Regions from separate parts of the Homo sapiens genome. Here regions 1, 2, 3 and 4 are each reported to be linked to region 5. The links are microRNA targets in miRTarBase. Many come from high-throughput screens and were not tested one by one. Region 5 holds a microRNA gene; each other region holds the end of a gene's coding sequence.
What was found. The annotated mature microRNA hsa-miR-623 reads AUCCCUUGCAGGGGCUGUUGGGU and lies in region 5 at 3,917-3,939, opposite strand. An mRNA with a match to its seed (bases 2 to 7 or 8) in the 3' UTR can be bound and repressed. Matches are read on the target gene's strand: a 7mer-m8 pairs with bases 2 to 8, a 7mer-A1 pairs with bases 2 to 7 and ends in A, and an 8mer does both.

Region 1 (6,109 bases), not on the chromosome of region 5:
AAGTGAGTGTTTACTGTCTTTTAGAATTTACAGGGAAAATCGAAACTTTCTACACAACTCCTAGAATCAAGTCCAAACAGAACCAATTACTTTTTTTGCCAAAAAATATAATTTCTAAGTGTATTTTTCACTAAAGTTATTTTAAAATAATTTTTAAGAAATGCCATACAATTTGCTTTGAGCAAATAATTTGTGCCCACTGTCAAAGTGTGGGCAGTTTGTAAAATGTAGTTTGTAAAAATGTAGTTTTGTAATTGCTTATAATTTTTCTTAGGCAATACTCAAGAAGGAGAATCCATTTAGCACCTCCTCAGCCTGGCTCAGTGATTCATATGTGGCTTTGGGAATACTTGGGTTTTTTCTGTTTGTACTCTTGGGAATCACTTCTTTGCCATCTGTTAGCAATGCAGTCAACTGGAGAGAGTTCCGATTTGTCCAGGTAAGAACTTCAAGTTCATTCCTAACTTTTCATTTTGCTCCATCACTTCCCTAGCAATCATATTTAAAAATTCAAATTAGAAAATGTTGAACCCAGGTACAAAAGGCAGAATCCATAATGATTTGATTTCTTAATACTCGCCAAGATTCCTGACTGCCTCCATATCTACAGCTAAGACTATAGGGTGAAAAATACTAAGAACTATTACAATTTATGTGTGGAGATGTACTAGGTACAAGGCAAAAAGAAACCCCAAGACAAAATTTCACCATCTAAAAAATTAACCTTACAACATGGACATACAGATATGGAAAACCAGATGTTGAGATAAAGTTTAAAATCTTCACAGCAAGATTTGATAGATGTCATCACACCGGAAGACTTAATGCTCTTCTGTAAGAGGGAAAATTGTTTTCTTCCACATGTCAAGCACCAACCAACCCCTCTTTAAAGGCAGTTAGTAACTACACATTCTTGTAGACCAGTGGTCCTCAAAATATGGCACCAGGACCAGCAGCATCTGCATCACCTGGAAACTTGTTAGATACACAAAGCCCCAGGCCATGCCCAGGCCTACTGAATCAGAAACTCTGAACCTGTGGCCCAGAAATTTAATGAGCCTTCAAGATGATTCTGATGCATGCTTATTATGAGTATAATAGAAAAGAGCATTAGTCTTTAAAATTAGGTTAGAATTTTATAGAACTATTGGAATCTTAAGTCTTGCAATTTCTCCCAGGGACCAAATGCAGTCAACATGTTCTCATTAGCAGTTTTGTTCAAGGTATTAAGGCAGAAATAAACAATAAGCTTTAAAATGTAGGCTGAAACAAGATTGGCTATTGCTCTTTATTGTGATAGAAATGAGCTAGGATCTGGTTTTAGTCAGTAACATATACTAAGATGGTGCTTCTTGAGGTCATACTGTGTCATATTCATCTCTGACCTCTAGAAAAGATGATAAATAAAAGAGTTTCACCTTTGGGAACCAAGACAAGCTACATTATTTATTCTAACTTGGAAGAGTTTACTCCTGGGAAACTTTTCCATCCAGCTAGGTTAAGGTGAAGCTACTATGTCATTTGTAAGAAATAATCTTGTTTTAAATGAAGTATTTACCATCCTGAAGAAGGGTTAGTGCTTTTTTTCAGTACTTGGCAAAGTGTCCTAAACATTATAGGTCTCAAATGTTTGTGGTTGTTGACAAATATCTGTCACTGGCTTAGAGTGTTTCACTTTAAGATGTAAATAATGTTAACTTACATATTTTTGTTTCTTGTTTATAGTCCAAACTGGGTTATTTGACCCTGATCTTGTGTACAGCCCACACCCTGGTGTACGGTGGGAAGAGATTCCTCAGCCCTTCAAATCTCAGATGGTATCTTCCTGCAGCCTACGTGTTAGGGCTTATCATTCCTTGCACTGTGCTGGTGATCAAGTTTGTCCTAATCATGCCATGTGTAGACAACACCCTTACAAGGATCCGCCAGGGCTGGGAAAGGAACTCAAAACACTAGAAAAAGCATTGAATGGAAAATCAATATTTAAAACAAAGTTCAATTTAGCTGGATTTCTGAACTATGGTTTTGAATGTTTAAAGAAGAATGATGGGTACAGTTAGGAAAGTTTTTTTCTTACACCGTGACTGAGGGAAACATTGCTTGTCTTTGAGAAATTGACTGACATACTGGAAGAGAACACCATTTTATCTCAGGTTAGTGAAGAATCAGTGCAGGTCCCTGACTCTTATTTTCCCAGAGGCCATGGAGCTGAGATTGAGACTAGCCTTGTGGTTTCACACTAAAGAGTTTCCTTGTTATGGGCAACATGCATGACCTAATGTCTTGCAAAATCCAATAGAAGTATTGCAGCTTCCTTCTCTGGCTCAAGGGCTGAGTTAAGTGAAAGGAAAAACAGCACAATGGTGACCACTGATAAAGGCTTTATTAGGTATATCTGAGGAAGTGGGTCACATGAAATGTAAAAAGGGAATGAGGTTTTTGTTGTTTTTTGGAAGTAAAGGCAAACATAAATATTACCATGATGAATTCTAGTGAAATGACCCCTTGACTTTGCTTTTCTTAATACAGATATTTACTGAGAGGAACTATTTTTATAACACAAGAAAAATTTACAATTGATTAAAAGTATCCATGTCTTGGATACATACGTATCTATAGAGCTGGCATGTAATTCTTCCTCTATAAAGAATAGGTATAGGAAAGACTGAATAAAAATGGAGGGATATCCCCTTGGATTTCACTTGCATTGTGCAATAAGCAAAGAAGGGTTGATAAAAGTTCTTGATCAAAAAGTTCAAAGAAACCAGAATTTTAGACAGCAAGCTAAATAAATATTGTAAAATTGCACTATATTAGGTTAAGTATTATTTAGGTATTATAATATGCTTTGTAAATTTTATATTCCAAATATTGCTCAATATTTTTCATCTATTAAATTAATTTCTAGTGTAAATAAGTAGCTTCTATATCTGTCTTAGTCTATTATAATTGTAAGGAGTAAAATTAAATGAATAGTCTGCAGGTATAAATTTGAACAATGCATAGATGATCGAAAATTACGGAAAATCATAGGGCAGAGAGGTGTGAAGATTCATCATTATGTGAAATTTGGATCTTTCTCAAATCCTTGCTGAAATTTAGGATGGTTCTCACTGTTTTTCTGTGCTGATAGTACCCTTTCCAAGGTGACCTTCAGGGGGATTAACCTTCCTAGCTCAAGCAATGAGCTAAAAGGAGCCTTATGCATGATCTTCCCACATATCAAAATAACTAAAAGGCACTGAGTTTGGCATTTTTCTGCCTGCTCTGCTAAGACCTTTTTTTTTTTTTACTTTCATTATAACATATTATACATGACATTATACAAAAATGATTAAAATATATTAAAACAACATCAACAATCCAGGATATTTTTCTATAAAACTTTTTAAAAATAATTGTATCTATATATTCAATTTTACATCCTTTTTCAAAGGCTTTGTTTTTCTAAAGGCTTTGTTTTCCTTTTTATTATTTTTTTCTTTTTTATTTTTTTGAGACAGTCTTGCTCTGTCGCTCAGGCTGGAGTGCAGTGGCACGATCTCAGCTCACTGCAACCTCCTCCTCCCAGGTTCAAGTGATTCTTGTTCATCAGCCTCCCGAGTAGCTGGGACTACAGGCATGTGCCACTATGCCCAGCTAATTTTTGTACTTTTAGTAGAGACAGGGTTTCACCACATTGGTCAGGCTGGTCTTGAAATGCTGGCGTCAAGTGATCTGCCTGCCTCCGCCTCACAAAGCACTGGGATTACAGGCATGAATCTGGCCTTACGTAATATATTTTCTTAATGGCTGCATAATATCACATCAAATAGGCATTTTTCAAACCTCTTTCCTTATTAAACATGTAGACTATATCCATTTTTTACTAAAATAAATAACATTTCAGATAATATCTTTGCACTGATAATGTTGCCAAGCCATTTCTAAAGTGACCTTATCAATTTAATTACCATTGGATGAGGGTGTTGCTTTCATCGCACCATTGTAGATTGTCTTTTTTATTTCAATTTGCGTTTATTTATAACTGGTTGCAAAGGTACACAGAACACACGCTCCTTCAACTTATCTTTGATAAACCCAAGCAAGGATACAAAAAGTTGGACGACATTGAGTAGAGTCATGGTATACGGTGCTGACCCTACAGTATCAGTGGAAAAGATAAGGAAAATGTCACTACTCACCTATGTTATGCAAAACAGTTAGGTGTGCTGGGGCTGGATACTGCTCTTTTACTTGAGCATTGGTTGATTAAAGTTTAGGTACCATCCAGGCTGGTCTAGAGAAGTCTTTGGAGTTAACCATGCTCTTTTTGTTAAAGAAGAGAGTAATGTGTTTATCCTGGCTCATAGTCCGTCACCGAAAATAGAAAATGCCATCCATAGGTAAAATGCTGACCTATAGAAAAAAATGAACTCTACTTTTATAGCCTAGTAAAAATGCTCTACCTGAGTAGTTAAAAGCAATTCATGAAGCCTGAAGCTAAAGAGCACTCTGATGGTTTTGGCATAATAGCTGCATTTCCAGACCTGACCTTTGGCCCCAACCACAAGTGCTCCAAGCCCCACCAGCTGACCAAAGAAAGCCCAAGTTCTCCTTCTGTCCTTCCCACAACCTCCCTGCTCCCAAAACTATGAAATTAATTTGACCATATTAACACAGCTGACTCCTCCAGTTTACTTAAGGTAGAAAGAATGAGTTTACAACAGATGAAAATAAGTGCTTTGGGCGAACTGTATTCCTTTTAACAGATCCAAACTATTTTACATTTAAAAAAAAAGTTAAACTAAACTTCTTTACTGCTGATATGTTTCCTGTATTCTAGAAAAATTTTTACACTTTCACATTATTTTTGTACACTTTCCCCATGTTAAGGGATGATGGCTTTTATAAATGTGTATTCATTAAATGTTACTTTAAAAATATTTCCTAGTTTTGTTTAATTCTGGTTTTAACTCATCAGCATTCCAAATAAAGTTACTAAAAGGTTTTGAATCACAGTAGTTCCAGCATCTGGGACTAAAAATACTTCCCTTCAGGGATAAGCAAAAGAGAAGGCAGTGCATGGGTTTGAAAGTGCATTAACAGATCTGCAGCTTCTTGCAATGTAAGCTTGAGCTCAGCGGGGTGGCACAGTCCAGTATGCTGTGTGTGCTTCAGTATTACCCTCAGAGAGGGGAGAGCATCAGATGGCTAAATGGGGAGGACTGCACTATCCCACGCTGGATTTTTGTGAGAATTTGGAGGTAAAAAAGGCTTTCCTTCTCCATGCAGACGCCACAGGGATAAGGCTAATGGCTTGACAAGCAGACTTCAGGTTGGATTCAGACTGCGTGACTGGGCATTAAATGCCTTGCACAACTGGACTGCTGCAGCTCTGATGGGTGTTATCCTGCTTTCAAAAATAGTATTAAAACTTACAAATAAAGAGAGGACTGACAACCTGGAGGAAGCTGGAAGCAAATGGAAAGCCCCTACTGAAAAAGCCATTTCAATTAGAAATTCATTCAGGAGCTCTTCATTCATCTATTGTTCAGGGATCACAAAAGAGCCATGATAATGATAAATGCATATTATGCATTTCACCTCTGAGAGCATAAAAGCTTCTGGAACTCTGTTCCAAAATTAAGGTGTAATGGCAGTCATGGTACTGCACACAGTAGTTGCAATTTTCATTCTCCATCATCACAACCATCATCTTCACTACCACTTCTCCAACACACACACACACACACACACACACACACACACACCCCATGAGAGCCCACAGATAGCCTTACAGGGTCCTACTTCAATTTTCTATAATGAATTAGGTTTACATTCTAGAAAAATCCTTCACTCTTCTAAAGGTTTGTTCAGTAGAATTTGGGAAAAGAGTATAAGTTACTCTTCAATGTATCAGAAGCATTTGGACCAGGTGACTCCATCTTCAATAGAGGCTGAGTAAAATAAGCCTGAGACTGGCCGGGCGCAGTGACTCACACCTGTAATCCCAGCACTTTGGGAGGCCAAGTCAGGTGGATCACCTGAGGTCAGGAGTTTGAGACCAGCCTGGCCAACATGGTGAAACCCCATCTCTACTAAAAATATAAAAAATTAGCCAGCATGG
Region 2 (6,029 bases), not on the chromosome of region 5:
AGTAGAAATTGAAACTCAGAATTAATTTCCCAAGGAAATTAATTGCCCAAGGTCTCTGAGCAGCCAGATAGTATGACTAGATCTCAAATCTGGAATTCTAGATTCTCGATCCAGGTTTCTTTGCACAGTACCACGCTATTTTTGATTAATAGTTTTGAGTCTTGCTTGTATTACATATTACATAAAATTTACAATAAGGCACTGGGCTCTTTTGCTTTGACTACTTGTATCTGTCCTTTCTGGAATAAAATGCAGATTTTAGACCTAGTTACATCTAGAAATTAGGAGTAGGAGCTTGGCAAATTATTTTTTCTAGGATGCAGGTAGACTTTACTAAATGATTAATTATAGCTTTTATCCTCTCCTTCAAAGGTTACGGTTAGATGCTTGTCACTTGCTTGTCCTGATGCCTTAGTCCAGCTCTCTCTGAATGGAGACTAGTTGGTGTTGCCTGAGTCCTCTGAGGAGTGCTGTGATGACAGCATCCTACCCACAAGGTTCCAAGCCACAAGGCTCTGTGCCTGCTGTCAGCAGCCAGAGTTGTATCTGGAACAGGGTTCTCCACCAGAGTCTAGGCTTCCTGGGGGTGCTGCTCACCTTCCAAGTTATGGGGATTCTGTCCTGATGTCGAATAGTTAAATACTCAGCACAGAGCAATAACCTATGTGTTTGTGATGGGTTTATTTTAATGAATCTAGATGAGTGAAATGCACATTTTTAGAAACTAGGTTAAGAGAGACCAACTCTCCCAACTAAATTTTTTGTTGTGCCTAGTTGGGGGTTTTTTGTTTTTAGTAATAGTGACCATGGGCCTGATGAGGGAGGCCACTGGGATAAGCTTTGCGGGAACTCCCGGAATGTTTGAGAGGTTCTCTTGTTCTGGTCTTTCCTGAGACTGAAGCCACTGGCAGCAATGTGCACGCTGAGCCGCAGCGCTCTGGCTGCTGGATTGTGTCCATGACTGCTCAGGACGTTGCCAGGATGTTGTGTTTTCCAATAATAAGCATTACTCTATAAATGCAAATTACCATTGTATGTAAATGTCATTGTACCATTTATCAAGCATTTACTCTGGGATAGGCAGCACTTTATGTACATTATCTCAGTGTTTCCTCATAAAAACCCGGTGAGGTATTTTTGTCCCCATTTTATAGATGAGGAAACTGGGTCTCAAAGAGTTTAGGTTTTTGCTCAGAAGCATATAGTTGGTGTGTGACAAATCTGGAAATCACCCCAGGAATGTCTGACTGCAAAGCCCCTCCTCTCAATAAACTACACAAAGTCTGCATTAAAAAAAGAAAAAAAAATTCCCACAGCCATGCTGACTCTCTTCTAGGTTCTAGTCTTATATTTGGAAGCATTAAAGATAGAATCCTGAACCTAAAGACAGTATCAGTAGTGACATCTGCAAAGATAGACTGTCATCTGCCAGGTCCTACTTTGACCACAACACGGAAGAATAATAAATGACTGGAAGCCTAAGTAGTTGTATACAATTATTAGATTTTGTTTTAAGTTCTAATAGGTGCAAAAAAGGCCTCATGAAAATGAAATGTTTCAGATAAAAGAACTACATTAAAATAGAGCCATGAGTAAAAGAATCAGATAACTATGTGTTAAACATTTTACATTTCCTTCGAGTTAATTTACATTTGTAGAGTAATGCTTAATGCACATTCCTGTATACAACTACTTTGAAGTCCTTAACATGACCAGAGCATATTATCACAATCATTGGTGTGGATCATTGTTAACTATCTATCTGTTAATTCTTACCTGCCCTGCCCTTTCAAAATTATCCTAATAACATGTTGCTGCATCAAATCTAGAACTTAAATAAGTGGATAAAATATATAGCTATGTCTGTTAACCATTTATTAAGAATCTCTTTTGTAGGTGAGGCACTATGTACTTTATCTTCATTATCTATGTAGTTTCCCAAAATCTGCTCAAAATATGTAATGTGATCCTAATTTTTAAAATGAGAAACCTCAAGTTACCCAGGCTGTGAACTCAACTCCACATTCCTGTGCTTTTCTTTCTGTACCACACCATCTCCTTTAACCACCAGGATAGCCTCTGGGTTTGCTATGGACATAGGCATAAGATTGATTTTACTAAATATCAGCTGTCCCAACATTCTTATGATTTTGAGTTATCAGAAAGACCTGAGTTTCTAAAAACTTGAGCTTTGGAATCACAGAATTAACTTGAACAGCCTTATCATAGAGAAATGAAACAATTTTGAAATAGCTGTTTGAAAATAGGTTGAGGATCCTAAATTAGGAACCACTAATCTGGTCTTTTTTTGTTGTTTAGGAAACTGAAGCACAAAAAAGAGAAGCTTCTCATAGTGTTACAGAGCTTATGCCAGAATTAGGACTTAGAATTTAGGTCATCTTGCAGCAAGTCAAGTGTACCCTACTGGACCCCAGTGCCTTTCTCCCTCCCTCATACCTCTTTATCGACCTACATATCTACCTACTTCTCTCTCTCTCTCTCTCTCTCTCTGTTTCTCCATCCATCCACCTACCTACCTTTTCTCCGTTGTCTTTTAAATAATGTATATTACCAAAAAAAACACCTTTTCTGCAGAGGAACTTAATCACCAAAACTGATGCTTGAGGTGTTTTGTTTTCTTCCACTCTCATGTTAAGATTTTTTCTATTTCAGAAATTAACCCTGCAGCATGTGAACAGTAATCAGTGCCTGGATAAAGCCACAGAAGAGGATAGCCAGGTGCCCAGCATTAGAGACTGCAATGGAAGTCGGTCCCAGCAGTGGCTTCTTCGAAACGTCACCCTGCCAGAAATATTCTGAGACCAAATTTACAAAAAAACGAAAAAAATAAGGATTGACTGGGCTACCTCAGCATACATTTCTGCCACATTCTTAAGTAGCAAAAAAGGAAAAGTGCTTTCCTCCTCTGCAGGATGTAAGGTTTATCAGCCATTAAAACTTAGACTTCTCTAGCTTTTCACTAGCTGTGAACCAGCCTTCCTGTCCATGGACGTGAAACTGCATAGTAATGAGACTGTGCACACTGATGTTTACAAGATTGAAAGAGTCTTTCTCCGAAAATCATGGTAAAGAATACTGAGACAATGAAAAAAAATCAACAAAATATGCTTTCTGGAGAACTGTACCTTTTATGGTTTGCTTGCACATCAGTAGTTTCTGCTGAACGTGCTGTCATAATGAAGAGATTTCCAAGATTTTTTTTCCTGATTAGAACTGGTAGCCAGTATATTAAATATTGATATAAAAATAAAAGAACTGGAACCAGATTCAGAATCATGAAAACAACATTTTTACAACAACAAAAAAACTATATTAAACAGGGTTTAAAGGAAATTAAAACAGAACTATGAGAAGTACAATTTGTTATAGTATAGTATCAAATTTCTATATAGATTTTATACCTCAGTGGGGAAAAATAACTGATTCCAATGACATTCATTTTGTTTTCATCTGTGATAGTCATGGATGCTTTTATTTTCCTTGGGGTGCTGAAATTGAGCTGAAAAAAAAAGGCTCTTTGAATATAGTTTTAATTTCTCTCTACAGTTTTTTTTGTTTGGTTTGTGGGCTGTTGGAATTGTAATTTTTAATTGCCTTCTAAAAAATGGAAATTTAACAATGTCTGATCTCAGCTGAACAAATTAGATGTTTCAGTTGCTCTTGGGTCAACTGGCTTACAGATTTACATGTGCACACACACACAAATTTCTTATCACATTTTCGACTTCTTCACTTGACCTAACTGATTATGCGAAATACCCAAGATTCATGCTACTGTACCACAGATTTGTTTTCACAGCAATAAATCTTCAGTTCTTTGTTTATGATTCCACTTAACAAAAGGCCTGCAGAAGTGATTTATTATTTGGGTATTTGGAGATAATACATTTGATGGTTTTTTGGAAAACCTTTTTCACTCCATACTCAGATATGCTTCATTGTCAAATGCATATTTAGATTAGATTATTGAATTGTAATGTTTATCTGCTGCTTTTTTTAAATAAAATTTGACTGAAAATGTTTAATTGGCATTTTTTAATGACTTAGCCAAAGAAGTGCAGCTATTATTCCATATTAATAGGCTTGCATTTCTTTTCCTAAATCTTATTTAGGCTAAATCAGTTTTATTTTTCTCTGATTTTTTTTAATACCACAGAATCACCTGAGTGTCAATTGAAAGTTGTCAATTAAAAGGTAACCTTTTAATCTCGTAGGAGGAATCTCATTAAGACATTTTTCCTGATATGTAGAGCAGTCTGTTGGCAAAAATGCATATATTTTCTTTCATATTTGTAAAATTATATTTAATGGAATTCTTTTCTTTGATTATCAAGGACTTTCACTGCAGGCAGTGCTATTTCTTGTGCCTAAGAATGTTTCCAAAAGTCGCATCGCTAATGATATTTGCCAAGTTGAGTGTACACAAAGTTTCTCATATCCTGTTCAAGTTAATCAACATCAAGCACATGGGGATGCTTTAGGGTGAGTCTATAGTACAAAATGCATAAACCATGTCCCCAGGAAATTTGAAAGGAAGCAGGTGCTGAATGGAATTTTTTTCCTTTTCCATGAGCTGTGTTAATTCTATCTCCAGTAGGCCTAATGCTTGAATAAGCAAGATGTCTAATCAATAAATTATTTTCATGCTCAGAATTTCAGGTTTTTGTACTCCAGCATAGCTTGGTCTTATTTCTTACTGTATGAAAGCTTAACAGCAATGTGATTTAAGGTTTTGTTTTAAATGGGAGATGTAAGTGATTTAATTCATGGGTACTTTTAGAACCTGATAGATAATCCCATTGCCTTTATTTTTCTAATTAAAGAATTCCTAAATACTTTGAAAATACAAAATATTCCTGAATAGTTGTGCCTTACATTGGTTTTATTTGAAGTTAGAGTGGATCCCTGTTTATCATAATTACTTGTAATTAGGCAGATGCTTATCACTCTATTATAACTCAAATTGGGAAGAAAAGAATGAAAAAGAAAACAATGGCTGGGTACTGGCTCATACCTGTAATTTTAGCATTTTGGGAAGGTGAGACGATAGGACCACTTGAGGGCAGGAGTTTGAGGTTGCAGTGAGCTATGATGGTGCCACTGCACTCCAGCCTGGGCAACAGAGAAGAAACCATGTATCTTAAAAAAAAAGAAAAAATGAAGGATGAAAAAGTGGGATTATTATTTAACCAGTGAAGAATTCATAAATGTGACAATTAAGGATAATTTGAATCTCACAAATCTATTCACCCCACCCCAGTCAAGGTCTATTTTAATATATCTATCTTCATTGGCATTCTTGAGAAATAGTGCTGCCATTGAACATTGGGAATATTCATCCATTCTGCAGATGGAGGACATCGTGCAGGCCATGTCCTCATTGCTCCCATTCTACATTTAGCTGAGAAACAGAGGTTCCTCTTTGTAAGGATTTGATGCTCTTCTCATCTTCCAAGAAGTATACCAAGAGCAAATTTAACTCTATAGTTACCTGTTCTTCAAAGAAAAAAGAAACTTAGAAGGTAGTGTTTCTGAGGTCATAACTGTGAGGGGTTGTATACAAAGAATGAGTCACTTTTTAAGCCATTTGGAAAATTAGATCTGTTTCTAATTAGATGACATTTTCTCCATTCTCTGATTTCCTGAAGATTGCCAAGCATTTGCTTGATAATCTACCAGGACTGATAATTTTGCAGAATATGAGGCAAATATATGAAATTCAGTTGTGTATCTATATCCTAGCAACAAACACTTGAAAATATAACGTTAAAATATGCCATTTGTAATAGCATCAAATAAGTCAAACTTCTAAGTAGGAAGAAAGTTAACAACAAGACCTCTACTCTGAAAACTACAAAACAGTGCTGGGAAGAATTATAGAGCACCAAAATAAATGGCTATTCTATGCTCATGGATTGAAAGACTGCATAATGGTAAGATGTCAGTTCCCCACAAATTGTTATCTAGATTCAATGAGATCAAAATCCCACAAGGCCATCTTGTAGAAA
Region 3 (6,073 bases), not on the chromosome of region 5:
ATTGCCTCTACCATGTGAGTCCCAGAGACTATAACTAGGCCAGATATCAAAGATGCTTTGCCTTTCTCATCCTTGTGTTGTGAAAGACAAAGAGGCCAACTTATGTTTGCTCCTGACTCCCAAAGCCCAACACTTGACAGTCATATTTCTTGTATTTCAGGGTTCCTGGTGGCCTGGCCTATGGTCCTCCTGACTGTCCTCCTGGCTTGGCTGTTCTGAGAGCTCCGCTGAGCATCTGGCCTTGAAGTTTGTGTTCTTCCCTCTGGCAATGGCTCCCTTCAGCACTTCTGCTTTCCACTCCAATTCACACAGGCTTGGTATTAATAGAATCAAGGCCAAGCTAGGTTAGGAAAAGGGAAGAGCTTTCACCTTCTTTAAAACTCTCGGCTGGGCGCAGTGGCTCATGCCTGTAATCCCAGCATTTTGGGAGGCTGAGGCAGGTGGATCACCTGAGGTCAGCAGTTCAAAATCAGCCTGGCCAAAATGCTGAAACTCCGTCTCTACTAAAAATACAAAAATTAGCCAGGCATGGTGGCAGGCGCCTGTAATCCCAGCTACTCGGGAGGCCAAGGCAGGAGAATTGCTCGAACTCAGGGGGTGGAGGTTGCAGTGAGTTGAGATTGTGCCATTGCACTCCAGCCTGGGCAACAGAGCAAGACTCTGTCTCAGGAAAAAAAAAAAAAAAAAAGAAAAGCAACATAGTGGGGTTTCTGTCAATCTGTCCTCGGCTGCCCTTCTCATTTGTTGATGGGACCTTGAAAGCAAGCTTGCTAGGTGCCCTCTGTGGCTCCAGCCTTTACCGGAAGTGTGGTGCATGTTTTTAACTTCAGGGAAGCGGTATCCTGTCACTGGGGTATGGGATGAGCATGGAGAAGAGGCACCAGCCACGATTCCTTCCTAAGCATCTCCTGTTCTGACTGCTCATGAATTGAAGAAACTGACCCTTGTGTTCACTCTGCTTCCTCTGATTGTTTCTATCATGGTTTCCAAAAATTGCCATGGGAACATGTCAAAGGGCCACTTTTGGAGACTCTGCTCCAGGAAGAACTAGTCCCCATAGCTCCCCTATCCCCCACCATACCACAGACATGCTGTGACTTAGAGAACTACACAAACATCCTTGGGACCTAGATGCTGGAGGAATGACTTAATTTGATGCAGAAACTCCATCACCCAAGGGAGTACCTCTCACTGTAAACAGTGCTGTGCTTGCTCTGAAGGATTAAGCAAGAAGTCCCAACAGAAGCAATGCACCAGTCCTGCTATGGGAATGAAACTGCAAAGCCTAGGAGATGGGTGAAGTCCCTTTCTGGAGACCTTTAATGAGTACTTCAAAGCACCCGACACAGATGCAGCAAATAGGGCATCACACATACACAGGCATTAATACTCACGGGCATATAGATGCTGACATGTGTACACTGACTTACGCCCTTCCCACAGCTACAGATAAGGCCTCGCAAAGTTGGCCTCAGAGACACATCAGGAACCAAGGTGGACCAGCAGGTGCCGAGCCTGTGTATCTGCTTGGAGGAGACGTTCCAATGTGCTGCCTTGTTCAGAGATGGTGTAGTTGCAAGAAACAGAAACCCACCACAATTTCTCAGGCAAAAAGGGAGTTAATTATAAGGACATAAGAGCACAAAGTTCCAGTGCAAGAGATACATCCAGGCTGCACAAGCTCCGGGAGTGGGGCCTGGCAAGCCAAAAGAAACCAAAGTTTGTCTTGCCTTCTGTTCCTCTTTCTGAAGCCACATAGCCTTTTATGACTGTGTATTTTTGCATCGCTTTTGTTTTCTTTTTATGTCTCTGAAGCCAGCTTTTCCTGTTCACTCATCCCTTGATTAAATATGGACATTCTAGCTTCACATCACTTCCTAATTCAGGGACCAACAGAGACTGGTTAGCATGTTGCTATCCCACCTCCAAATTGCATCAGGGAATTTGATTTTGCTGCTTGGGTCAGGGTCCAGTAGTCTGGGCCAGGGGACTGGGACCATCTAGCACATAGCCAAAGGGGCTGACCTAATGGGGCAGGTCTGACACAAATGGGGTCATTTCTTGGACAGACATCCCAAGGGCCACTATGATAGTGGCTTCTCTAAAAGACGGGTTCCTGAGAAGAATTGCATTCTGTTTCCCAGTGAGTTAGCGGAGTCATACTTACTACATCCCAAGGCAGGTGGCATGGTAGAAACAGGCCTGAAAGAGAGGTCAGGTTCTAACCTTCTCCCCTCTCTGAGGCTCAGCTGCTCCCTTCTGTAGAATAAAAGGGGTTGGTCTGTAACAAGATTTTCAAAAATTTATAGTAGTGAAACTTTACAATTCGACTTGGACAACCAGAGATTAAAAGCAAATAGATTCTTGTTGATGTCAGGTGGGGAGCTTAGCTCTCCCATTCTGTGATTCCTTCCTCTGAAGGCCCTCAAAGCAACTCCATAATAACTCACAGAGCTGCCAGAGCCGATGTTTTGGAGCACCCTGAGACATATGAACTCTAATATAACTTCCAGGAGAAAGTACATAGGATTCCACTTAGAGCCAATCTCAGCTGTCTATCTGTCTAGCTACCTGTCATCTATCTATCCATGTATCTATCTATGTATCTATCTATGTATGTATGTATCTATCTATCTATCATCATCTACCTCCTATCTACCTATCGTCTACATACCTCCCTACTCAATTATCATCTAGCTAGCTAGCTATTTACACCTTTTTGTTTTCTACAAATGGGCATGTTGTCTGAATAACAATCTCTGAATGTCCAGTCCACTTCATTCATTCATTCAGTCAACACAAATTTGCTTAGCAGTTTTTATGTCCCGGGTCCAAGGGCCTGGGTACAATAATTAATTAGACACAATCCCTTCCCTAGGAATGTTCCCAATCCTGGCAGAACACAAACTCACATAGAGGCACTCACAGGCAAACCACAAACACACATGCCCACTTAGCCCCCCACACAGGCCTGTATACCCAGAGGCGTCTATCCACACCAACACACACATTCTAACAGACACACATATCAACCTCACGTGCCCAAAGGCACAGATGCACATGCAGAAAGCCTCAGAGACCCTCAAGTCAGCCACTTACATATTTATTGTCATGAATTACTTTGTAACAACCAATATTTTTTAACACCCCCTACGTATAAGGCATTATTTTAAGTGCATTTTGGGCATTATATCATTCCACCCTCACATTAGACATTGAAGGTAGCCACTATTATTACCTTCAATTTAGTGACGAGTAAACCGGTGCTTTAAAAAGATAATTACTCAAAGGCCTATAGCTTTTAAATGCTGATTTCAGGGCTTGAACCCAGGTAGCCAGACGTTGAAGCAAATGCTCTAAACTAGACTCTGTATCCTGCCTCCATTTATATATAACACTTAACACACACACACACATAAACACACACACACACAGTGCGGCACCCATATACACACAAACGTATATGTGTATAACATATATGCACCCACTTGCAAACAGGTATGTGGACAGACACATGCATTTTCCAGCAAAGGCCCTCACACATACACAGGCATTAATAGTCATGGGCGTATAGATGTTGAGATGTGTGCGCTGACTTATGCATCATGATTTAGTGCAGACACACCAATGGAACTTCACATATAACTTAATACAGAAAAAAAACCCACAGAGACACTCCAATGTGTCATACGTGCACACACATATGTCTGCACATGCACGCATACATATACACATAAACACACACATACATCCCTACGAGACACAGGATCTGGATCCAACTCTCCTAGAACCAGGATTCCTGCCATGTTTCTCTCCCATCAGCTTACATCTCCCACCCCCAGTGCTGTTCAGCTGGGCTCTGGGGCAAGATAAATTCCAGCTGCAGAGGGCTCAGTGAAATGGGCCCTGGACCCAGCATCTGAAAGTTCTGGAGAGTAAGGATGTTGGGGATAGCCAGAAGCAACCTGAAGACTAGTCTTCCATACCCAGGAAGACTGGCCTCTCAGGTTTGAAGAAGCCTTTGCAAGCAGCTGGTAGAGGATACCGAGTGGCTTAAGGTGCCCTCCCCTCCAAGAACTTCAACTCTTCTTGGGGAAACAGAATGCAGATACTGGGCAGCAAAAGCTTAGTAGTGTAAGACTGAGACAGATACTGCAAGACTCAGAGAAGGGAGAGCTCAGCCCAGCCTGGGAGAAGAGGGAAGGGCTCAATCCCAGTCCCTTCATTTCATGGATGGAAATTAAGGTCCAGCAAAGACAAGTGGCATGTCCATCCTTAATGACCAGGCAGGGATGAAGGTGGCAGGGAGAAAGGTAAAACTGGTCACCTGAAGGAAATTTGGCATGGGAACCCCAGAGGATACACCCCACCCATCCTAACTCATTTCATAATCTCTCCTCACTCCGTTCCTCTCTTTCAGCCTCTTTCTCCTGTGAAGGGCCAGAAATCACCCTCATATTTTCTATCATATTAGATTCTCCCTTCTAAAAGTCTATCAAATTCATCCACTTTTCTTCAACCCCATTGAATCTGATCTTTTCCGGGCTACTTTCATCTCTCACCTTAACCACCATAATAGCTTCTTAAGTGGCCTTTCTTCAGGCTCACCTCTCTCAATCCATTCTCTACTCTGCAGCTAGTGAGCATTTAAAACAAAAGACACTTTCTCCTTTAGATCGCTCCAGAGGCTCTTTACCTTCTATAGGATGAGTTCTGCCTGCTTACCTGACAGATCACATTCTTCACCATCTGAGCCATTGCCTGCCTCTCCAGACTTAGCCCTTAAACATATCCCCTTCATAACCCAGCTTCCAGTGCCACGGAATTTCTCAGGCTCCCTGAGCTGTTCTATTGCACTCTACCCTACTCTCGTGTGCTGTTTTGCTGCCTGGAGGACACTTCCCCTTATTGGGGTTATTTCTCCTATGAAGGCTTCCTGGATCCCCCTGTCCAGTGTAGAGTAGGCAAATCAATCAATAGAAAATAGACCCACAAACGACAAATAATATAATCAGCAGACCAGAAAGTCAACACAGTTTAAAAAATACATTCCATTTTTTTCAAGAAAGTAGAGAAAAGCATGAGCATGATAAGTAGAGAAAAGGAAGATATATATTTTAAAAAACTACTACCCTACTTTATGACCTCTTCTTTACAGACTTTTTTTTTTTTTTTTTTTTTTTTGAGATGAAGTCTCACTCTTGTTGCCCAGGCTGGAGTGCAGTGGCGCGATCTCAGCTCACCACAACCTCTGCCTCTCCGGTTCAAGTGATTCTCCTGCCTCAGCCTCCCGAGTAGCTGGGATTACAGGTGACTGCCACCACGCCTGGCTATTTTTTTGTATTTTTAGTAAAGATGGGGTTTTACCATGTTGGCCAGGCTGGTCTCGAACTCCTGACCTCAGGTGATCTGCCTGCCTTAGCCTCCTAAAGTGCTGGGATTACAGGCATGAGCCACTCTACAGACTTTGATAATCACATGTAGCGTCTGCATCTGAAATTGTTTTTACATCTGTCCCACCTGCACCCTTCACCCCAGGCTGTTAGTTTCTTGAGGACAAGGACTTCATCATTTTCAAACATTATTGGTCAAATAAATGAAGAAATAGGCTGCATCCTTTCTCTTTATCCTTTGACCTCCTCTATCATCCTGCTGTTATCTTCCAGAAGGAGAAGAAACAGCTTCACAGGAAAAGTAGAGGAGATTTTCCCATTATGGTGAAAGTGCCAAATCAGAATGTGAAATAGGAATTCTGGGCTCTGTACCAGGCATTTACTCCTATGCTGTTAGCTGATGTTAAAGAGGGTGGATTTCTTTTCCCTTAGGTCTCACCTTCTGTGCCTTCAGGGGAAGTTGGTTGGAAGTTTGAATGGTTTGTTGTTGTCGTCATTGTTTTGTATTTAGGAGGGCTGTAATGGAACGAATACAATGGTTATTGATGGAGAGTAAGTTGAGAGAAGCTCAAGGGTGATTATTTAATGGCAGGAGGGGGAGAAAAAAAGTAAATCTATAAAGAGCTTGGGACACCAAGTCCAGAACTTCATGCATATAACAGCCAATTAACAATCAAATT
Region 4 (6,005 bases), not on the chromosome of region 5:
AAATAATTACTAGCTCTTTAGAAGCTTCAGAGGTGAAAGGTGTAGACACATCATCTCCTTCTGAATCAGAGACCTCAGTGTCTCTATGGAACCTTTTTCAAAAGGCAGCCACATTCAGTCACGCCTTCTATACTGTCAGAGGCAGGAGGGCGATCTTGGGTTTTGGATGATTCAAGTAGACTCTGCCACACAAACGTGCTTCTGCATCCTGTGTTCTGTATTTCACGGGCAGCGTTTCTGGCTTCCCAGGCACTGAGCAGCCTGTGGGGGGCACGGCAGGGCAGGACTGGGGTGTGTGGGTAGATAACCTCCTGGGACGGCTGCCTCTCTGTGGAGCACACTGCCAGCCCAGGCGCAGCGACCACAGAGCACATATTCTGGAGCCCTTCATTTTATTTGCTCAATGAAAATACTTCGTCCTTTTTTATCAGCAATACATATAGTTCCAACAAGAACTATTCATCACAAACTGCCAGCCTGGGGATTTCTTCATGAAATATTTTGTATTTGCTTGGTACATGGTTCAAGGAAACTCTTGTGTTTGTGCCAATCAGGGAAATAAACTGAACAATAAACGACACTGAAATAGAGTATTAGGCAATATGTAGCTTTGTTTTTGCTTTTTTTTTTAAAAAAAACCACTGAATTTTTTTCCACCCACAAACACATGGAAAGTGCAGAAACCAGTTAATCTATGTGATGTATTTGCATACGTTTACAAACAAGACAAATTAAAACAGAAACATGTTCAGAATTTAACCTGATTAAATATTAAGTTCAGTCCTGAGCTTTTGATATTTAAGACAATATAGATAAAGCAATAGCAAAAAATTTTAATTTATTTGATTTGCATGCTACAGAGATTTAGCTAAACTTTGTTCATTTGGCTAGCAATATTCTTTTTGTACCTGTAACACTTAAGATTCTGATATACAAAATTGTAATAATATACTGATAATTCAAACTTGAGAACTAAATATTACATTCTTTTTACCCTGTGCGAATAAATTCTACCTTTTAAAAATAGTATTTATAATATTAAAATTCATATTTGTCCATATGGTTTTGTGATCAAGTTATTAAAATGTTTTGTCACTGTGAATCATTTGGGTTAGTACAAATATGACAAGATTATTAAAAGCTGCCTATAAATACATAACACTATTGCTGACTTTTAAAGTGTAGAAAAAGGATTATATTAAAATAAGTTCATCTCTCATGTTAGAAATGAGGAAATTTTGTGAAATACAACAACCAAAAGCATCTTGGTCACAACTGCTAACTACCAGCCTGAGACAGATTTTATTCTTTAATACTTGTCTGAAACTTTTTGTATTACAAAAAGTCAACAGCTAATCTGATGAAAGACTTATAAAGCTGTAAATATTCCAATATAGTCTCTTCTGTGTCAAATATTTAAAATGGCCAGAATCAAACTATATATTAAACAGAACATAAATAAGACTGTAAATAAATAAATGAAGAAAATAAAATCGTACGGAACAACTACACATAATTCTATAGACATTTTCATGGTCAAACTAAGATGCTGAAAACAGCTCACCTTCATTTACCTCTACATTAAATAAACTTCTGTCTTTCACATTTGACCTTGACAAGGGTGAACTGTATTCTTTTTCTAGTTTTCCTTAGTCATCTAATAGAATGAACTGGGCAGCCTTAAAGGACTGTACTCAGTCAATTCACTAGGCTGGTTTTTGTTCAAAGCAGTGTCTGCCATGTCCAGTTATGTCTTCAAAGAAATTTGTATGTAAGTGTTGGGACATTTAGGAAAAAGTAATTAAAGTTCTAGGCTCAGAAGTTGCTTAATTTGAACTTCAATTCCAATAACATGAACTTTCCAAAATATATATAATTGCTTTCAAGAAAATAAAAATTCTTGCTAGTGAGCTAGTGAGCATTCTAACTGAGGAACAAAACTTTTTTTTTTTTTCTTCAAGGGGTCCATTCCTTTAAGACAATTTTGGATTTCTTTAAAAAATCTATTTTATTTGCTATATTAGATGGCTAACCCAAAATTGTTTCTTGGGTTATTGAGTAATAAGTATGGTTTAAATGGCCTAAATACTACATATTTTAAAAGCCTTGATGCTGGCAGAGCTGCACTGAGGATCTGTGTTTTTAAGAAGTGCCTGGGTCGGGTAAGGTGAAATTCTAAACTGGAGGACACATTAGTCAGTTTATCTCTCTAAACTTGTTCATCCAAAATAGGCTTTTTAATAAACAATTTAGCTTATACTTCAAATTAATAATCCCCCCACACACATTCTTCCCTTTGCCTCCCAACTATTTACCATAAATTATAGATAGAACCCCCTAAAAATGAGAGCTATGAAGTAGTTTCTACTAAATGTTAGAAATCTGCTTGATAAACTCTTCTTTGTTTTTGGCAACTTTGATTCTATCAAGACATCTTTCCCCCTCTTCTTGGTTACACCAAATGAGTGCCGATGCATTTCCCTCCACCCCTCCAGCTCTCTCTGTCCTCAGAACACAGGGCCACCACTAGGCACCATCCTTAGATTTAGGGCAAAACACTAGTGCAAGCCAGAAACTCACTTTTGAACACTTAATGCAAATTCAGGCTGAGTGAGACAAACCAGCTGCTCATTTGATGAGCTTATTTGTATCTCTGCGTGGCTGGTGTTCTTTCTTCTCCCTGCCCTCAGTGTCATGAATCCCAAGATCTTTCGTGTAGCCAAGAGTAGTGCTCCTTTGTATTCTTATTCTTATTTTTATTCTTAAGAGCACTTGGTAGTTTATATCTTAGTTTTCTTTAGAAAAATATAAAAGGACAAAAAGGAAATTGTCTTAAGGAAACCAGGTGTTCCCGCACAGGTGATGGCCGTGGACGCAGCATCCATTTCGGGCGGACTTTGGAACGCTGCACTCCAGCGTGTGCTCACACTGCCTCCAAATGGAAAGCGCTCCTCTCCTCGCCAGCGCACAGATACCACGTGGCGCTGCTGCCATCGGCACAGCCTACTCACAGGAACACAAAGGAGAAGCAAAACCACCGGCTGAACCAAGTTGTTTCTCAACAGCCGGCTCAACAGTACACATGTGGGGTACTGCCTCTATTCCATTTTTACAAAATGAAGTCCACTGGCAATGCGCACATACTGGGCAACATTTGTGTACCAGGTTATCCCATCTTTCTTATATGATTTTTTCTTTTTTAAGCATATAAAAATTACACTCAAGGTACTTTACAAATTAATGTGTTGAAAATCTGATGTGAAATAAAAGTTCTTCAAGAGTTGACAGTTACGTTACCAAAAAAAACCAAACACCAAAACAAAAACACAAATCTTCAGTCTTTTACCCTCCCTAAGAAAGTGAACAGATGAAAAAATAATTTCTTAAGTCATGTAATCACACATCATCAGCTGGCAGGGATGGGATGCTTATCTTTGCTCTGGTGAAGTAGGCAATCTTCTCCCTAGAGTTGGGGTGAGAAATAAATTGACTTATATATGATGCTAAAAATACTCTGGGACCATTAAAACAGTCCCCAAGACCTGCAGTGGCAGTGATGTCTCTGCAAGCACAGGTAGAAGCTCTTTTCCTTACGCAGAACTCCATTTAAAATCAGGAGAGCCTCTGCCTGCTTAAAGGGGGGGTATCAAGGAGAACAGCAGCTCTGGATCACGGAAGTCACCTACAGACCAAGCCCGTAAGTTCCCTTCAGGGAACTTCCAACAGAAGACAGTTTTTAAACTAGTAGGGGTTTGGTCTAGGATGGGTGTTTCCGAACTAGGTAGCAGAAGACTCAAAAGGCCCAAAATCCTACCTGGAAACTTCTCAGTAACCTCACAGAAAAGCACACAATAACAGGAAAAGTCTTTACATCGATACCATGCCGGGGCAGGGACAACCTGATGAGCGACACCACGACGCAAATGAAAGGAGAAGGAGGAACTATCTGCAAGGTAGTAACTGCCCTGGTCCCGAAGCAGCGGAGAGGCTGAGACAGGGCAGAGCGGTTTTCAGGTGAGGAGAGTGCTTAAAAAAAAGACAAACAGTGCGTCTATTTCCCTACAGAACTTCACACTGTACATGGCATTTATGCCGTCAGCACGTATTTCTTGAGGGCATATTACATGCAAGGGGCATGCTGGTAGCTGAAGAATCAAGCACTGGTTCTCCCTTGCGAAAGAACAGTCCAGATGGGGGAGGAGGTGCGGGTTAGAAACCAGAGCTGAGGTGGGGATGTTCTGAAGACTAAGAAAGGATAGAGAAGAAAAGGAGGAGTGAGAACACTATGGACACTGGAACGAGCTACTGCTGTGAACAGTGTCCTTTAAATTTGTTCAATTCATAAGAGGAAAACAAGAACAAAAAATGCCACGAGTGTAGGTGTGATGTCAGCGGAGGCCTTAAGGCGCAGCTGCTAACTGGGGTGTTTAAAAATACCTGAAGTAGTTGCCGGCACCTGCATTTGAGATATTTCACAGAAAACTGTTGATTTCTAACTTCTCTTGAAAAATTAGAAGGCCAGGGACCATCGGGCTCCTGATTCCAGGTGAAACAAGCAGCTGGGGTGGTGCCGGGCAGAACGGCCCAGGCCCCACCGCTGCCTGATCTCACCACCCCAGGCCAGGCAACGGTAGCCGTGCAAATCCCACGCTTCCAGCATGTTCTGTCTCACCCTGGTCCATCTCATCATTCTCGTCACTTCCCTGGTGATATAATATGCTTCGTATCTTAAGGGAAGCTGGGAATGTTCGTGGATTCTTTGCTTCAGGTTTCGGCAACAACTGCGAGTTGTGTGACTTTCCACGCTAGACAATGCTGCTTATTCTCTAAGTGACCACAGCACCAGGGACATGGATGGGCTCCCCTCACCTGCAGTTCTAAAACCCAAGTAGTGGTAGTCCCTGAAAGTCACAAATGTGATTCTTTAGCAGAAAAGAGGGTGGAAAAACCTCTCTACTGCAGGGTGTTGCAGAAAAATGAAAGAGCTGTGAGCCCACTAAGGCACACTGCTGCTGCCACACGGTCCGTGGCCCTGCCCTCCCGCTTGGTACCAGACCTCAGCCTGCCATAGCTGTCCCTGCTCCACCACGTGACCTAGCTTCCCCACACTTCAAAAACACTCGCTTCTTCTGGGCTTCTCCCCTTTATGCCTAAACACTTTCCAAAGACTCGTCTATACAAAACCTCAACCAAAACCAAATAAAAACGCAATAGGAACAAACCTTTTTGCTGAGCTCCCTCCGTCGGGGCTGAAACCATCTAGTGTGCTCACCAGGGATCCCGGATGTACTTTTCAGTTCTCTCCATCAATCTCCTCTTCCCACCCTCTTGCCCCAGGCTCCTGGTTCTCCTCTGACCTCTCCAGCCATTCTTTCTAGCATCTCTTTTGGGGCGAGCCCTTCAGTGATTGGTGCCCACCAGCCTCCTTTCCCAGTCACCTCACATTTTCTGGGATGTCTGGCCCATTTCCACAGATGAGACCAATGCATTGAAGATGAGCACTCCCATTTTTTAATCTCCATCCTGACCCCTAACCCTGGCTTTAGATTTTTATTTCCACTTGTCTACTGGTCATGGTTATCTCACTAGCCTGCTGGCATTGCCTGGTGTGCCATGGCAGAGGTCAGCATCCTCCCCACACCCCTGCTCCCCAGCATTCTCCATCTCGAGCGCTGGCACCACAGGGCAGCCACTGCCCCCCACAAACCTCCCATGAACCTAACTGGCCACCCTTACCCGCTTCTCCCCAGCCCACTCTCCACAATGCCTCTGATATCTGCCCTACATAAAACCCATCCCCATCATTTGGTTTTGTGCACGGAGAGCCCTGCTGGCCGCCCGTCAGAGACCACGGGTGGAAGCCTTCTGCACAGCTTCCAAGGCCTGTGCAACTTGAGCCCAGTTCTCCTGGGCAGGCTCACCAGCTGGCAACTCCCCATGCGCCAGAGCTTGGCACTGACTTCTAAGGTCTGTGCCTCTGTCCATGCTGTTCTTCCCGCCTCAAT
Region 5 (6,109 bases):
GAGGGGGCATTATGAATGCGATGTTTTAGAAAAGCCAAAATGACTTCCAAAAGCATCTTCATCTTATTTTAAGACTGTTGGCCATTGGAAACAAATGCACCCTTTCTTCTCAGTCTTTGGTGCTCAGAAAGCCTTTATCAGCATGCCAGGTTTTGAAGTGTGAAGCACACAGCAGGGGCACCTCCAGTCTACAATCGGTGGCCCCCTGCAGGCCACCATGCAGGGAAGGTTCTGGGGGAGACCATGGGGTAGGCAGCGAAGGGCGATGTGACTCTTTAGGGGTGCTGTGCTTGGGCACACGGGAGGCGAGGCAGGGCCCACACAAGGACTTACTCAGTGTGCTATGGACCAAGGCTTTCAAATGTTTTCCACCTCATGGCACACACAGAAAAAGACAGATTTGCATGGTCCACAGGAAAAGCCAAAACTGTTTACAGCTGGCCCAGTGGCTTCAGGCCCTTTCCAGTTGCCCCCAAGCGGGGAGGGGACCAGTATCTCAGCCCATCTATGACCATGGCACAGTGGCTGGGAAGCTTTACCCCAGGCCATAAGGAAATACTTACACATTTAGGAAACAGGTTGATTTAACAGGAGTCTCTGACAAAGGGGATGACCTACCACGGAGATCAAGGGCAGAAAAAGACTAGATCGTTTTACTTGAATGAGTTAATGTAAAATCACAAAATTATCACATCTACTAATGTACCTGGTAATACTTTCAGCAACAAAAGTAGAAAGAGAATTAAGACAACCTCCCTGCCTTTTAGAAGCTCATAGTCTGGTATTTTAATAATGAAACACTTTTTCCTTTTTCTTCCAGGTTATCAAAGCACCCTTTGTTAGATCCAGTGGATCCTCCTGAGCGCTCTGTGACCTGCCTTCTGGCAGCACCAGGTCTTACTGACCACTCTTCCTCGACATTCTCTTCCCCAGGCTTTGTGGCATCCCGCTTTCTTTCTAGCCCTCTAGCTACGCCTTCTCAGTGTCCTCAGATTCTCCTCCTCCCACTCCTGTCCTTCAGACACGGGTGTTCTTGAAGGTTCCATGTGGGGAGTGTTTCTCTCCTTCTTCCGTGTTCTGGGTGCCCATCCATTCCTAGGGCTTCATGGGGTAGAGACTCCCAAACTCGAACCTCCAACCCAAACACTGTGTCTCAGAGCCATGTAACCCACTGTCTCCTGAACACACTTTCATCTAAATGTTAAGGAGACACCTAAGATAGAACACGTCCCAAACAAACTCATCTCCCACCCCATATCTCTTGCTGTGTCCCCTGTCTTGGGGTGTGACATCCACATCCATCCACTGCATAAACCAGATCTCTAGGCTCTGTCCACTGGAACTCCCCCGCCACTGTCTCCACCCTCACTCTCACTGCCCCGTGTGAGACCACAGTCCATGGCCGGGGTGGCTCCAGAGTTAGTTCCTAAGATACAAATCTCGTCAAGCCCCTCCTCTACTTAGAAACCCTTTGCTGGCTCCTCATTGCCCTTTTATTAATTTAAAAATATTTAATAACTCATTAACAATCACAAGCCTATTACTTGCTAACATAAATATAGATTTTTGAAATAAAAAATAACCATGTTTTCCCAAACAGAATTACTGAGAAGAGTGGCACTGTTTTCCATTTTTGCAAATCTCTTTAATGTCTGACTTACTAGAAGGTTGCTGGATTCTCCCATCTGCTTCTGCATTCGATTTTGTTCTGTTACTCTGGTTTTTGAAGTACATGAAGCAAATCCAGCCACATAGATACACAGTTAGAAAAGAAAGGGAGAGTACATTAAGGGCCTTTTCGGATGACTACAGACATCCTCCCCTTTGATGCTACTCAATGCATCCCTGTTGCTTTCAGAATCCGACAGAAATTTCTTACCTGGGCTTACCAGACTCCTGTCTGCCACTGGAGTCACTTTCTCACAACACCGCCCTCACATTCTCTACTCCTGCTGGGGAGCCTGCTCTCACCACCCTGTACTCCTCTGCGTGCTCTCACACCTCACCATCCCTTCCCCAGGACAGCTCTCAGCACATCCCATTTCACTTGCAGGCTAACCGGCCTGAATCTCACAACAGCCTATTAGCTCCACGGGGACTGTGATTCTCCATCTTGTCCTGTTTGTAGACCTGGCCTCCTGTACGACCTGGCATATGCAAGCACTCAAGAAACAGTTGCAAAATGGATAACTGAATGGACAAAGACATAGTGAGGCATATTGCTGAGTTAAGGCGTATGGGGTTTTCTTAGCCAAGACTGTAGTTAGTTGGGATATGAAGACCCAGGTGATGGGTTACTAATGAAGGCGGGGTGGAAGGGGTGAGAGGGGTTAAAGCAAGGAGGCTCCCAAAGGACATGCTTGATACCTACATTCTTCATGGACATAGCATCCTCTTCTAATACAAGAACCAGGAGTTACAAAGAAGCAATGCTGGGAAACTGGTGAAACCACAAATGGCAGCTCCTCATAGAAGACAGTTATTTGCAATTCCCTGTGCTCTGTGGAAGCTGCAGCTTTTGGTGTAAGTATGAATATGCTTACACTTAGTTTTACTCATTTGCCTTCTATGCGTAGTGCGCTGTCCTGGGGCCAGATAAGGAGGCTGTGACACAGAGAAATGACTAATTTCCTATGGCCCTGAAAAGAGTTTGGCTGAGATAACAAAACAAACGTACATTAAAAACTAAACAAGAAGCACTTCAGGACTGAACGAGAGGCATCTTGTTAGACTTAAAACTGTAGTCACGTGTCGCTTAACAACAGGGCTTCATTCTGAGAAATGTGCTGTTGGGTGACTTTGTTGCTGTGTACTTACAGAAACCTAGATGTGATCGCCTACTACACACCAAGGCTGCTTGGTGTAGCCTATGGCGACCAGGCTACAAACCTGTACAGCAAGTCACTGTGCTGAATACTGGAGGCAGCTGTAACACAATGGTAGTTGTGTATCTAAACATAGAAAAGACATAGCAAAAATATGGCATCATAATCTTATGAGACCACTGTCATACATGCAATCTGTCATTGACCAAAACATATTGTTATGTGGTGCATGACTACAAGAGTGAGCACAATACAGAGAGAAAAGACACCACAGAGGCTGCTGTCCTCAGCAAAAGCTTTGTGGCAAAACTGGGGAAAAACCAAACAAAGCCCAAAAAAAGAAAACCAAACAAAGCCCACCACCAGAACCACACACAAACTGGCAACACATTCACCACTTGGATAAGAGATGGGGCAACGCGAGGCCCAGAAGAAACCATGCTGCATATTTGAAAGCCTTGGTTCCTTGGTAAAGTCTTAAAAATAGGAACCTTAGAAAACTCAGAAGACTGAATCTAACCCTGTCATGTGAAGTGCCACCCATGATCTTTGTGTCGTGCTATAAAAACAGTGTATTGTATCTTTCTGTGCTGCTTAGCAGTAGTCTCAGTAGGTATTGGAAAAAATAATAAACTAGAGGGAAAGGAGATGATCGCTTGAACAAAGTCCCAGGCTAGTTTTGCAGCTCTCGGTTTCACTTTTCCTTTGTGGTTTCTCACAGTGACCAGTGTTGATGGATGAGATACTTCAAACAGTACTATTTCTTCTAGGCAGAACAGAAGGCAGTTTCCATGGCAATACGATCAGGAGACACAATACATCCTGTTGCTCAGTTTTGAGAACCTTTTGGCTTAGGGGACAGAAGTTTCCAACTATCGGCTGCCCTCTGCCCCGTCTCTTCTTCCTCTGTCTTGCTCTAGTCGGCTGGAGTCCCAAAGGCCACACGCCTTGCCTGTGCATTCCATGCAGGGGCTAAAAGGGTCAGGGCCACAGCTGGTGTTCCAGGGACTGATTGGGGATGGCAATGAGGACAGAAGGTGCAAAGACATCTACAGAGTACATCGGGAAGCTCCAGCACAGCTTAGGATGCAACCCAACAGCCCCTGCAAGGGATGCTTCTACTGTGTACAGTCTGACAGACATGTGTCCCAAGTCTTGTTTACTTTAATGACATTTCTTTTCAGAGGCCTGACATACCTAGCACAGCTGATCTTACTGTGACATAGGTACAATTTTACAAACAGGTTCAGTTGGTTTCAACAGCAGCTGCAAACCCAAGAGAGACAGGTTTTCCCTTTGTTTCAACAAAGCACGGCTCCCAGCCAGTTCCATCTGGGGAGGCCCTGGAGGTGCAGGGAAGGGACTCTGGAGAGAGCCATGGGATGCACATGGCTCAGCCATGCACCAGGGCGTCCAGTGGGTCTGTGCCGCCGCTGCCCTCCAGGCCCCCTGCACAGAGTGGGGTGAGACTCTGGGCAGCTGCGGGGGGGCTTGTGGCACCAAGCACGCTGCGGGCTGAGCCACAGGCCTGCGTCCTGGCTCTCGTTTGTTTTGAAAACGTGACTGACCCATCACTCCTCATGGGGAACTTTTCCTCCAGGGACCGTCAGGACCAGAGGTGTCCCAACCTTTTCCTGTGTTTTGGTTTGGTTTTGGTTTTGGTAGAGAATGAGAATGCTAAGGCTGCTCTGTGAGGAGGAGGTGGTGGTGAGAGGGTGGCGTGGGGGGACCACAGGGTTCCACAGCCCACAGCCCAGCTGCAGGTCAGGGACATCAGCGCAGGAAGAGCATGCCAAGGCCTTGTCTTGCAGCTTCCTCACTCCCTCGACTGAGTGACACACCTGTAAGCACTGAACGCTGGTGACGGTAAGGGCCACACAGCGAGGACTGAGACAGTGGCCTTGAAGACATAAGAATGGAAGTGCATCTCTCAGAGTGTGGATTATCCATTTCTGCATCGTATATTCTGTTTTCCCTTCCTTCATTCTTTTGTCTGCCAAATTTGGGGTCATTTTTTCCTTCCCAGCATTGGCTCTACACACAAATTATAAAGTAAAAGTCAAAATTAAAATTAGTTTTGGTACTTGTTACAGTAAATGTTTTGACAGAAACAGAGGTGAAACTCCTAATTAAAAATGAGACTGGGGATTACTCAAGGTTTCCCCTCTTCTTACATTTCCTCCGTGGAGAGTTCATCCATTTTCATGTCTTCAGTGACCACCTGAGTCTCATTCCCGCACTTGCCTATCTGCGTTCACCGTGGCAGGCGGATGTCCACTTCCCAGCTCATGTCTGGACTCAGCTCTCCTCTGTCCATCAAACCCAGCCAACGCTGAAGGACTACTGATTTTCCCCTGGGAGAGGATCTGCCCGTTTAGGTCCTTGCTGTTGCACTCCGAGATTATGCCAACAACTTCTTGGATGACATGACTGCCAGTAAGATTTCCCCAATCCAATCTGCATGCCACGGTCAGTGAGTGTGCACAAGAAGCCCTTTCACAATGACACTGCCTCAACCAAAAACCCTCGGGCATCCTGTCTGAGTCTGTCCTGTTTTGCAGGTCTGCCCAAACCAGCCCCATCGTAAATTACTTCTCTAAATTACATCCTAAATTACTATGTCGGCTCAAACTGTCCCTGCCACCTAAAGTGCCCTCCCTGGTCCCTTCCATTTGCATAGGGCCCAACTCCTGTTTCCCATCTGTAAGTGGCTTCTTTCTCTGCAACCCAAACCCTCCTGTTCCCCTGCTCTGCTGAACTTCCACAGAACTCAGCCAAGCCGCCAAGTGAACAGAGAATAAAACCCTGAGTCTGGGTTTCCCCAGCTGTAAAATGGAAAGCTGGACTAGATAGCCTTAAGCTAGTTATGAGCTGTCTCTTCCCAATCATTATATTAAAGAACATCTGGAAGGCCAAACAGTTCTCTCTCAAAAAGGAGCCTCAGGCCACCTGCCAGAGCCGCTGCAGGAGGAGCTCCTGGACAGATGCTGGGTTGACACCCCCATGTCACCCGGCTCACACTGCTCATGAATGTCACCTGTACAACCCCCTATCTCCAATAAGATATGAGCTCCTTGGGCAACTGTCCTGTGAGAGCCACAGTTGTGGACAGTGTCCACGTGAGGGAGCAGGTGCAGAGCAGTGAAGGGGGGTGCGGTGGCCTCCCCCATCCTAAACCCACGATCTGCCTGCATCCCCTGTGAACAGGCACTGCACGTGTGCACACACCTCCATTGCTTAGACAGAATGATTTTACCAAATCTCAGTATGGCTAATCTGTGCTC

Region 1: the mRNA of STEAP4 is a reported target of hsa-miR-623. Seed matches in the 3' UTR shown: 7mer-A1 at 2,425-2,431.
Region 2: miRTarBase lists GALNT1 as a target of hsa-miR-623. The part of its 3' UTR that is shown has no 7-base or 8-base seed match.
Region 3: the mRNA of GP2 is a reported target of hsa-miR-623. Seed matches in the 3' UTR shown: 7mer-A1 at 353-359 and 7mer-m8 at 1,175-1,181.
Region 4: the mRNA of WWC2 is a reported target of hsa-miR-623. Seed matches in the 3' UTR shown: 7mer-A1 at 2,291-2,297.

The regions. Positions count from the first base shown.
Region 1 is chr7:88,275,245-88,281,353 of GRCh38, reverse strand. It overlaps STEAP4 (STEAP4 metalloreductase), which reads left to right. Exons shown (of 5, transcript NM_024636.4): 4 at 275-439; 5 at 1,726-6,109. The coding sequence ends at 1,956. Among named protein-coding and RNA genes, the nearest start is that of STEAP4, 29 kb to the left of the region's middle.
Region 2 is chr18:35,706,951-35,712,979 of GRCh38, forward strand. It overlaps GALNT1 (polypeptide N-acetylgalactosaminyltransferase 1), which reads left to right. Exons shown (of 12, transcript NM_020474.4): 12 at 2,674-4,884. The coding sequence ends at 2,820. LOC105372064 (a long non-coding RNA gene) reads right to left here. Exons shown (of 5, transcript XR_935377.3): 2 at 5,036-6,029. Among named protein-coding and RNA genes, the nearest start is that of MIR3975, 120 kb to the left of the region's middle.
Region 3 is chr16:20,305,369-20,311,441 of GRCh38, reverse strand. GP2 (glycoprotein 2) reads left to right here. Exons shown (of 11, transcript NM_001502.4): 11 at 161-1,868. The coding sequence ends at 219. Among named protein-coding and RNA genes, the nearest start is that of GP2, 19 kb to the left of the region's middle.
Region 4 is chr4:183,313,121-183,319,125 of GRCh38, reverse strand. WWC2 (WW and C2 domain containing 2) reads right to left here. Exons shown (of 23, transcript NM_024949.6): 23 at 1-3,463. The coding sequence ends at 3,397. It overlaps CLDN22 (claudin 22), which reads left to right. Exons shown (of 1, transcript NM_001111319.3): 1 at 1-1,026. Among named protein-coding and RNA genes, the nearest start is that of CLDN22, 4.2 kb to the left of the region's middle.
Region 5 is chr13:99,353,976-99,360,084 of GRCh38, reverse strand. MIR623 (microRNA 623) reads right to left here and starts at 3,954; the gene lies at 3,857-3,954. All of the region lies in intron 7 of UBAC2 (UBA domain containing 2), which reads right to left. RefSeq lists an enhancer at 3,688-3,927.